Regions from separate parts of the Homo sapiens genome. Here region 2 is linked to region 1. The links come from fine-mapping of genetic effects on gene expression. Tissue or cell type: caudate. Region 1 holds a variant in brackets; the other region holds the start of a gene. All regions are shown on one strand. Distances are between the middles of the regions.

What was found. PIP is the estimated chance that this variant, and not a neighbour inherited with it, causes the effect.
Region 2: it holds the start of CRLF3, and the variant in region 1 is fine-mapped to the expression of CRLF3 in caudate (GTEx, PIP 0.94). The same link has a PIP of 0.9 or more in nucleus accumbens.

Annotation. Positions count from the first base shown.
Region 1 is chr17:30,727,207-30,732,352 of GRCh38, reverse strand. It overlaps the pseudogene SUZ12P1. Among named protein-coding and RNA genes, the nearest start is that of CRLF3, 95 kb to the left of the region's middle. RefSeq lists a silencer at 367-436 and an enhancer at 134-754. The variant C/T (reference allele first, on the strand shown) is at 3,033.
Region 2 is chr17:30,821,685-30,826,830 of GRCh38, reverse strand. CRLF3 (cytokine receptor like factor 3) reads left to right here and starts at 2,139. Exons shown (of 8, transcript NM_015986.4): 1 at 2,139-2,308. The coding sequence starts at 2,180. RefSeq lists an enhancer at 1,846-2,140 and a silencer at 1,848-2,227.

The DNA.
Region 1 (5,146 bases):
AATCTTGGGGGAGTCAAGAACCCGCCCGGACCCTCTTTTCCAGCTCTCCCAAGGCCCTGGACTCCGGATCCCCTGGAGACGTAATCTCCGAAAGGGGGACATCCCCTCAATTCCTCCCTCCACTACCACACAAGTGGACTCCCGAGGAGGAAGGGGGCCCAGCAGAGTGTCCCATCCCCGGTGTTGGCAGAGTGGGTCTTCCTGCCCTCAAAGCCTCGCACGCACTCACTCTCAAAGGCCTGGAGGAAAAGCTCGTGGTCAGCCTGGACGTGCTCCATTTTCGACTTCTTCACCGGTAACGCCGCGGAGGAGGAGGAGGCCGAGTAACTGCCACCGCCTCCACAGCCCCCGCCGCCGGATTTGCCGCTCGAAGCCGTCGCCGCCGAACCCCCGAAGCCGCCTCCCCCGGACCCCGCGCTGGGCCCCGAGCCGCCCCCTCCCCCACCGCCGTGCTTCTGAGGCGCCATCGCGGTTCCTGCCTCCTTCCCCGGCCAGCTACTCGCCGGGCGGCCCCGGAGAGTAAGCGCCTGCAATACCAACCGCTCGCCCCAGCAGGCTCCGGCTGACCGAGGGGAGAAGGAGGAGAGAGGGGAGGAAAGGGGAAGGGAAGGCAGGAGGAGAGGAGGGAAGGAGGGAGGAAGAAAAAGTGTCTCCTCAGAGCCCCGCTCCGCTTCGGAGGCCGCTCACCCTACCCAGGCCTCGCTCCGCCCACTTCCCCCGCCCGGCGCTCTGATTGGCCGGCGGGAGCGCGCACCGCCGGGCCGCCCAGCCCGTTGGCCCGCGGATTCCCCCGTCAGTCACGCGGAGGCGCTTCTCGCGGAGGCGCGGCTTGGTTGGCCGGTGCGCGCTGCCGATCGCGGGCCCGGCCGCCTCTTTGAACTGAATTCGCGGGAAAATTAGGGGTCGGAGCGGCCTTCCTGCTGGCCCCGGTGCATTGTGGGGAGAGAAGGACCCAGCGAGCGGTTTAGAGAGTCTAGATCCTTAGTTTTTTGCCCCCAAACACCGTAAGAGCGGTCAGAGAGGTAAACTGGTTGAGAAGTACTTACATACACTCTTCTCTTCTTGAGGATCTATACCTTTTCAGCTCAGAAAGCTGAGAAGGAATCCGGTGTTTTGCGAGCCTTGCTTTTTTTTTTTTTTTTTTTTTTTTTTGAGACGGAGCCTCCCTCTGTCGCCCAGGCTGGAGTGCCAGTGGCGCGATTTCGTCTCCCTACAACCTGCGCCTCCCGGGTTCAAGCGATTCTCCTGCCTCAGCCTCCAGAGTAGCTGGGATTACAGGCGCTCGCCACCACGCCTGGCTAATTTTTTTGTGTTTTTATTAGAGACAGGGTTTCACCATGTTGGCCAGGCTGGTCTCGATCTCCTGACCTCGTGATCCGCCTGCCTCGGCTTCCCAAAGTGCTGGGATTACAGGCGTGAGCCACTGTGCTGGCCAGAAACACACATTCTCTGAGGCGGGCCCTCCAGCATGGGAACCCCTGCTCTGTCACATCCAGCTGTCATCCCAGCCTGTCCCATCTCAGGCTGTCCTGGGCTCTCAGTACCATCATTGAGCCAGCACTTTCAAATCTCTTATGTCCAGCCTGGAATTTCTCATCAGAGCCCCCATTACCATTTCCCTGCTGAAAACCAAAACCCTTGTAATTGGCCCAGTTAGCTCCCTGACCCCATGTCTGCTCCAGCCACTCCTGCTATTCCTGGACCACAGCAGGCCTTGCCCCAGGGCCTTTGCACCTGTCGCTTCCTCCACCTGTAGCTTCTGCCAACCCACTGTCCACATGGCCGGCTCCTTCAGGCCATTGCTCAGATGGAACTATTCACCTGGTGTATAGAATGTCCTCTTCATGGGGCAGGGATCATTGAACTGTTTTGCTCATGGTGGCCGCATCCCCAAATTTTACTTTTTTTTTTTAGAGATAGGGTCTTGCTCTGTCACTCAGGCTGGAGTGCAGTGGTGAAATCATGGCTCACTGCAGCCTCCACCTCCCAGGCTCAAGCGATCCTCCCGCCTCGGCCTCCCTAGTAGCTGAGACCACAGGTATGCGCCATCACGTCCAGCTAATTTATTTTATTTTGCAAAGATGAGGTCTTGCTATGTTGCCCAGGCTGAACATGAACTTCTGGCCTCAAGAGATCCTCCTGCCTCAACATCCCAAAGTGCTGGGATTACTGCTTGAGGCCATCACCATTGTTGTCTTCATATCCTCAACTTTTAGAATAGGCCTGGCACGCGGCACTGAATTATTTGTTGAATGAATCTCAGATCCCAAAGCTGAGACTCTGCCTTGATTCCTCACCTTCCCTGTCATCCCCCTCACAGAAGCCATCAGCAAGTCCTGTGGGCTCTGCCTCTCAAGTATCTCGCGACCTGCCCACTTCTGGCTCTAAGCACAGCACCCAGGCCCATGCCGCCATCCTATGTCACCTGTATGTTGTCCTGGCCTCCTTGCCCGCCTCCCAATCCGCCCTTCACTCAGAGCTAAGGGACCACATAATGATGTTGATCCGAACATTAACTGACCCCCTGGTCTCTGCTGGGGTCTCATTTCCTCACTAGAGCCCAGAGGCTGTGGGTGAACTGGTGCCACCAAGCTCTCCAAGCCCCATTCTGTCCTCCCTCCTGTTCCTGAAACATTCAACATTCCAGTTCCAGCCCCCAAGCAGGATCCCTGCATGTTGGCTGCGGCTGCTCATTGTTCAGGGCTCAGCCGCAAGGTCACCGCAGCAGAGTGACCTACCCTGGCCCCCTGCAAACAAAACAGTCCTCGCCTGCTGCCCTCACCCGCCATCTTTTCCCTGTTTTTAATTCACAGCTCTCAAGTGAGCACCTGAAATTACCTTTTTATCAACACGAGCTTCTTGAGAGAGGCCCTTAGAAATCAGCACACGGCTGGGCACAGTGGCTCATGCCTGTAATCCCAGCACTTTGGGAAGCCGAGGCGGGTGGATCACCAGAGGTCAGGAGTTCGAGACCACCCTGGCCAACATGGTGAAACCCCGTCTCTACTAAAAATACCAAAAAATTAGCCGGG[C/T]GTGGTGGCAGATACCTGTAATCCCAGCTACTCGGGAGGCTGAGGCACAAGAATTGGTTGAACCCGAGAGGTAGAGGTTGCAGTGAGGCTAGATTGTGCCATTGCACTCCAGTCCGGGCAACAGAGCCAGACTGTCTCAAAAATAAATAAATAAAATAAAACAAATAGGCACAGGCCCTCAATAAATAAAGATCCCCACAGGGCAGGACACCTGGTCCAGACCTCAGTCTCCTCACATGGGAAATGGGAGGATAATATCTGCAAGACAGCCCTGAACACCCCCTCTCCAGCCCTGTAGCTCTCTGCCCGCTTCCCCTCTCATGCCCACTCCTGATACCAGCTCCCTCTCCACTGCCCCAGCTTCTTCACTAAATCCCCCGCAGCCACCTCCAGCCCCCATCCGCATCTCCCCCCACATCCCTGACTAGACACGGCTGGTGTCACTTTCAGATCATTTTACAGCGTGTTACTCCCCCAGCCGCCACCAGCCCCCGTCCGCATCTCCCCCCACATCTGTGACTAGACATGGCTGGTGTCACTTTCAGATCATTTTCCAGCATGTTACTTTGGGGATGGGGAGTGGCTTCCTTATTTCAACTTCCTCATTTCTCCAACTGTCCAGCCACAGAAAGGTTCAGTGGAGGCAGTGTCCCCAAGCTGAGGAGTACTCCCCTCCCAGGGTCTCCAAGCGCTTTCTTTCACACTGCAACAGGCATCCTAGCAGAGGAACTGGTTAGGGGAAGTAAAAATGGCTGGATTTGTACGGTGACTCATGCCTGTGATCCCAGTGCTTTGGGAGGCTAAGGTGGGTGGATCACTTCAGCCCAGGAGTTCAAGGCTGCAGTGAGCTATGATCGTGCCACTGCACTCCAGCCTGGGCAACATGTCTCTAGAAATTTGTTTTTTTTTTTGAGACGGAGTCTCACTCTGTCACCAGGCTAGAGTGCAGTGGCACGATCTCGGCTGACTGCAACCTCCGCCTCCTGGGTTCAAGCGATCCTCCTGCCTCAGCCTCCTGAGTAGCTGGGACTACAGGCATGCGCCACCACGCCCAGCTATTTTTTGTATTTTTAGTAGAGACGGGGTTTCACCGTGTTGGCCAGGATGGTCTCGATCTCTTGACCTCGTGATCAGCCCACCTGGGCCTCTCAAAGTGCTGGGATTACAGGCGTGAGCCACAGCGCCCGGCCAAATTTTTTGTTTTTTAATTTGGCGTGGTGGTGCCCAGCTACTTGGGAGGCTGAGGCAAGAGGATCACTTGAGCCCAGGAGTTTGCAAGGCTGCAGTAAGCTATGATCCTGCCACTGCACTCCAGTCTGGGCAACAGAGCAAGACCCTCTCTTAATTAAAAAAAAAAAAAAAGGGCAGGGAAGCCACCCGATGCCAAGTTGTGTGGGCAGCGAATCCACATGGGTCTAGATCCCAATTTTGCCTTATACGTGCCCTGTGTGACCTTGAGCTGGTCTCCTCACCTCCCTGGCCCTGGTTCCCTCTGCGCTGCTATTCTGCAGGGTTCTGGTAAGGAGAGCAGTGCACGTACACGCTGGGCCAACACAGGCCCCATCAGAGGGTGCCATGCACAGCCTGGCGCCAGTCAGGGCACAAAGACACCCACGGAAGAGGCAGTCCCTCTCTTCCTCCCAGGCTGCACCCTAGAATGCTGAGACTCCAGAGTGGAGCCCCCGCTGAGCCATGTATACTTCCACCAGGAACTCCAAGGCATCTTCAGCCCAACCAGACCAATACAAGCCCCTACATCAGTGCACGGTGCCACCATCCTTCCAGGCCCTCCAGCCAGAACCCCAGGAGCTGAAAGCCTTGACTCCTCTTTCTCTCACCCCTAAATCCAGTTCAAGAGTAAGTCTTTGGGCTGTGTATACTTCCAGAACACCCCAGTGTTGGTCCACACATCTGTCTTCAGCATCTGCCCCTCTAGTCCTGGGCCCTGGCCACTCCCCAAGTGCCCTCTGGCCCCTTTGCCTCCGATGTCCAGGCTCTCCTGGCAGCCAGAGGCACCACCTCCTTTTTTTTTTTTTTTTTGAGACGGAGTCTCACTTTGTCACCGGGGCTGGAGTGCAGTGGCACAATCTTGGCTCACTGCAACTTCCACCTCT
Region 2 (5,146 bases), 94 kb before region 1:
TGGAGACAGGAGAGGGAAAAAGCCTTTGCTGACCAGATGACCAACGTATTCTGATCTGAATCCAACTCTCTGGTTATAACTTGATTTTCCAGCTATTGTGATTTTTTTCAACAATTATATTCCTGTTGTAAATAAATAAATTGGCAAGCTGCTTAGTTTGTTTCTTGTGAGTCTTATTAGCAAGAGTCTGTTCCCTGGAATCCTCTGGGTACACTTGAAAAGTCAGTTCTGGACCAATGTGATGCCATGGAGATATCTCTGTAAAACTCTGTCTGATGGCTAGCTGACATCTACTTCTAAACCAGTTTCCTCGAGAACATTTACTCTTTAGGAATTCATGCTCTAAATTTAAAAACAATGCATCTAAAAATGTCAAGTCTAGGGGTAAGCAGTTTTAGAATATTTCCTTCAATTTTCTTATTTGTTTTGTTTTTGGGTATAGTGTAGATATGTTAGATACACACTTCTTGCCTTCCATCAGACTAAGAAAACAAAGTTGAATGAGACCAAGATTCATGTCCTGGTTTTATGGAAGTTTTCCTTGTAATTTTACTTATTTATTTATTTATTTTTATTTTTATAGACATAGGGTCTTGCTATGTTACCCAGGTTGGTCTCTAACTCCTAGGCTCAAGGAATCCTCCCACCTCAGCCTCCTGAATTGCTGGGACCACAGGAGGGCGCCACCACCCGCGGCTAATTTTTTTTTTAAATCTTTTTGTAGAGAGGAGGTCTCCTCATGTTGCAAAGGCTGGTCTCAAACTCCTGGGCTCAAGCAATCCTCCTGCCTTAGCTTCCCAAGATTACTGGTGTGAGCCACCATGCCCTGCCCATAAGGTTTTATTACATACAGTCACACCTATTGTGACAGATACCTTCCGGTCTGGCAAGCCCAAGCCCAGCTTATTCACTACGGTCCTTACAGATAACACTTGCCAACACCCTTCTTGGACTTGTGCCAGAATTGCTGTCCTGCTGGTCATCTCTTGGGCCTCTCTCTTGGATCCCCCATTCGTCCACGAGCTTCTGGGTGGTGACACCTGGGTTTTGTTGTTGTTTTTTGAGACCGAGTCTCGCTTTGTTGCCCAGGTTGGAGTGCAGTGGCACAATCTTGGCTCACTGCAACCTCTGCCTCCCGGTTCAAGCAATTATCCTGCCTCAGCCCTCGAGTAGCTGGGATTACAGGCGCCCACCACCACACCCGGCTAATTTTTGTATTTTTAGTAGAGATGAGGTTTCACCAGGTTGGCCATGGCTGCTCTTGAACTTCTGACCTCAGTGATCCACCCGTCTCGGCCTCCCAAAGTGCTGGGATTACAGGCGTGAGCCACTGCTCCCCGCTGACACCTGGGTCTTAGTAAATTCCCCTAAGGCCTGCTCTGCTCTTAAGGACCAGGGCTTTTGTCATCAGATCTGGGCTCAAATTCTGCGGCTTGGAAAAGTCGATTCGCTATTTTTTAAAATTTTTAATTTAAAAAAAAGTATTTTTTATTTAGAGACAGGGTCTCGCTCTGTCGCCCAGGCTGGAGTGCAGTGGCTCCATTACAGCTCACTGCAGCCTCGGCCCCCGGGCTCAAGCGATCCACTGGGACCACAGGCGTGCTCCACTACGTGTTGCTAGTAGTAGCAGTAGTAGTAGTAGTAATAGTAATAGTAGTAGTATTTTTGGTGAGAGAGGGTTTCGCCGTGTTGCCCAGGCTGGGTCTCGAACTCCAGAGCTCAAGGGATCCGCCCGCCTCGGCCTCCCAAAGTGCTGGGACTGCAGGCGTGAGCCACCGCGCCCGGCCGATTCCCCCCTTTATCCCTCAATTTCCTCATCTGAGCAATGGAGATACAGGTAGGGCTGAAGGTCAGGCAAGAATGCGATGAGCTGTGAGAAGCACTTGGCAAGGTGCGGGTTATCAACCTTGCCAGGCCTCAGCACGTTTCCCAAGGAGGCCCAACCAGCGGCGCTGTGCCGCAGCACGGAAGAGGCGGGGTGAGCCGCGGGGCGGGCGGCGCTGGGACCCGGACGCCACCCGCGCGAGGCGCCGCCGTGCGCCCGTCAATCAAGGTCGTCGTGGGGCATGGGGCGGCGGGGCTGGGCGGTGCTTCCGCCTGCGCGAGGCCGCGCCGGGCCGCTTGGAGGCGCCCGGTGCAGTCGGGAACCCGCGCTAGGTTTCGCCGGCCGCGCGGCCAGATGAGGGGGGCGATGGAGCTGGAGCCTGAGCTGCTGTTGCAGGAGGCCCGCGAGAACGTGGAGGCAGCGCAGAGCTACCGGCGGGAGCTGGGTCACCGGCTTGAGGGGCTGCGTGAGGCGCGGAGGCAGGTCGGAGGGCCACACCCACAGGGGCGCTGTGGGCCCGGGGGTGGCGCGGATGCCGGGCGAAGGCTGGGAGGGCTTTGAGGGGTGGGACTGTCCGAAAACTCTGGAGTAGGGAAGAGGCATTCATTTGAAAGGAGACCTAATGGAGTCTGGGAACGGGGAAGGTGGGAGTTGGGGAGGTCGTAAGGGGAAGTTTTGGGGGTGGAGGGAGGGTGTGAGGAGCGTTCACTAAACTGTGGGGCAGCGATGGGAGTAGCGGTGGCCTCCGAAGTTTGGGAGAGTGAGGGACCAGAGCAGAATCCGAGGGGGTCATGCGGGTAGTGATGAGTCGGGGGAGGAGGAGACTGGTAAAAAACCTGCGGTGGGTAGGCGGGGAGGCATTGATTTTAGAGAGCCTGAGGAAGAGGTGGGACAGTGACCTGGGAGAGCTGAAAGTGGAGACAAAATGGATATTGGAAGGGGAGGACTAAGGGGCGAGAGTGAGGGAGAGGTAGGGATTGAGAAGCAGTAGCATTTGACAATAAATGCGGTTAATGCCTGAATAATATGTCATACGATCTTGAATGCTTTTTAAAAAATCATTTAGAGTAATCCTGTTCTAGAAGGTTTAAAATTTAAGGTGAAGGTGAAGCTATGTTGGAAGAGCAGAAGGAAAATGATTTCCTTTTCCTTGAGAGAGGGAATACAAAGGTATAGAGAAATGGAAAAATAGATTTTAAGAGAGGAGTGCTGAAAGGAAAAGCTAAATATAATTTCAAGTGGTGCAGTTATCTGTTTCACAGGGCAAGAGTTATCAAAGATACAGGAAAGCCATATGGTTTCTCTATACCCTCGAATATATATAGAAAAAGATATAACCCGCTGCCAATTGGCGATAGGACGGATAATCTTCAGAGTACTATTAACGCAACTGCTTAATAAGTGCTTTTTGAGTGAGTGGGATTCCATCTGAATTTCTCTGGGTCATACTTGATATTAATCTAGTTGGTCGTCTTAGCACTTCCTTGCTGCATATAACCTGAAAATGGTAGAAAAGTGCTGTGCTAACAGTGTCTTTGGATATTCTCATCATTAACGACTCAACATGTTTTGGGTTTTATATATATATATAAAACATATACAAACATATATAAGTATGTATATATATAATCTGTTTTTTTTGAGACGGAGTCTGGCTGTGTCGCTCAGGGTGGAGTGCAGTGGCACTATCTCGGCTCACTGCAACAACCTCCGCCTCCCGGGTTCAAGCGATTCTCCTGCCTCAGCCTCCTGAGTAGCTGGGATTACAAGTCTGCGCCACCACACCCGGCTAATTTTTGTATTTTTAGTAGAGAGGAGGTTTCACCAGGTTGGCCAGGATGATCTTGAACTCCTGACCTCGTGATCCACCTGCCTCAGCCTCCCAAAGTGCTGGGATACAGACGTGAGCCACCGCGCCCGGCCGGGTTTTATATATTTAAAAATATTTGTAAAGCCAGTGTAGGCCAGACATCATTTGCATTTTAGTGGCGAAACCGGAAGCAGAATCTAGATATGATTATGCTGATTTGGTGAATACTTTTCAAGGCCTTTCAATGCACTCATCTCTATTTCTCTTTGAAAATATCTGCATTATTCCTTCTGCTATTTTGAAATAGGGACTCTAGATGTAAGACATTGTATGAAAAGAAAGATATTAAAATACCATCTAACATTTCAGTCAGTTAAGATGTATTCTATATGACCATGATTATTGTTTTTGTATTAGCAATTAAGAATCAGAGTTGACACTAAATGAGTGAGTTTAGCACCTGGGAGTAATTAATTTCTCTTGATATTGGATGCATTAAAAAAAATCGTGATTACACCCTAGATGGTTCAGTATTCAATTTTCAAACCTGTATTTTTTCAATTTTATATCCAACAATTTAAATACAGGACATGCTTTTCTGTGGTTTAGTTTATTATGAGCTTTGTTTTGTTTTGTTTTTGAGGCCCATTGTCTTGGGCTTCAGACAGAAAACACTAAATGAACATCGATCACAATTAGGTTCCTGATGACATTGCCTTCTGACTAGACTGAGTAATAATGTAGTTCTCTTTTGTGAGTGTGAGTCTCTTTTGGGAATGTGTTTTGTGCCAGTGGCAGTTACAACAGCATCTCTCGAAGCTAACTCTAGTGGATTGTGCATGTTTGGGTTTGTGGCATAAGTCCTCTGTCAACTTGCATTTTAAGGAAGGTCTATGGTACAAAAATATTATCAAAGTAAGCAGCTGCTTTTGTTTGGTGGTTTGGATATTTTTAGGGTTCCAGTCATTTTCAGAATAACTGTAAAATATATGGCACTTTAGTCAAGGATTTTGCATGGGAGAAGCATGAGAAGAGCAGAGAGGAAGGGATGCCACCTGTCGTCTGTATTTTTTACTTGCTGATTTTATATCTTTTTGGCAGATGATTTCTTTTCTTTTTTTTTTTTTTTTTTTGGCGGGGGTGCGGACAGGGTTTTGTTACGTTTCCCAGGCTGGTCTCCAACTCCTGGGCTCAAAAGATCCTCCCACCTCTGCCTTCCGGTGATGGAATTACAGGTGTGAGCCACTGTGCTGCCTGGCATGTGACTTTTTTTATTGAGATATAATTCACACACCGTAAAAGTCATGCCTTAAAGTTTACAATTCAGTGGTTTTTAGTATATTCATAGAGTTGTCCAACCATCACCAGTGTCTAATTCAAGTATATATTCATCACCCCCAAAAGAACTCCTTAGCTGTCACTCCCATACCCCCTGGCAACCACAAAACTACTTTGTCTCTATGGATTTGCCTATTCTGGTCATTTCATATAAATGAACTCATACAGTATGT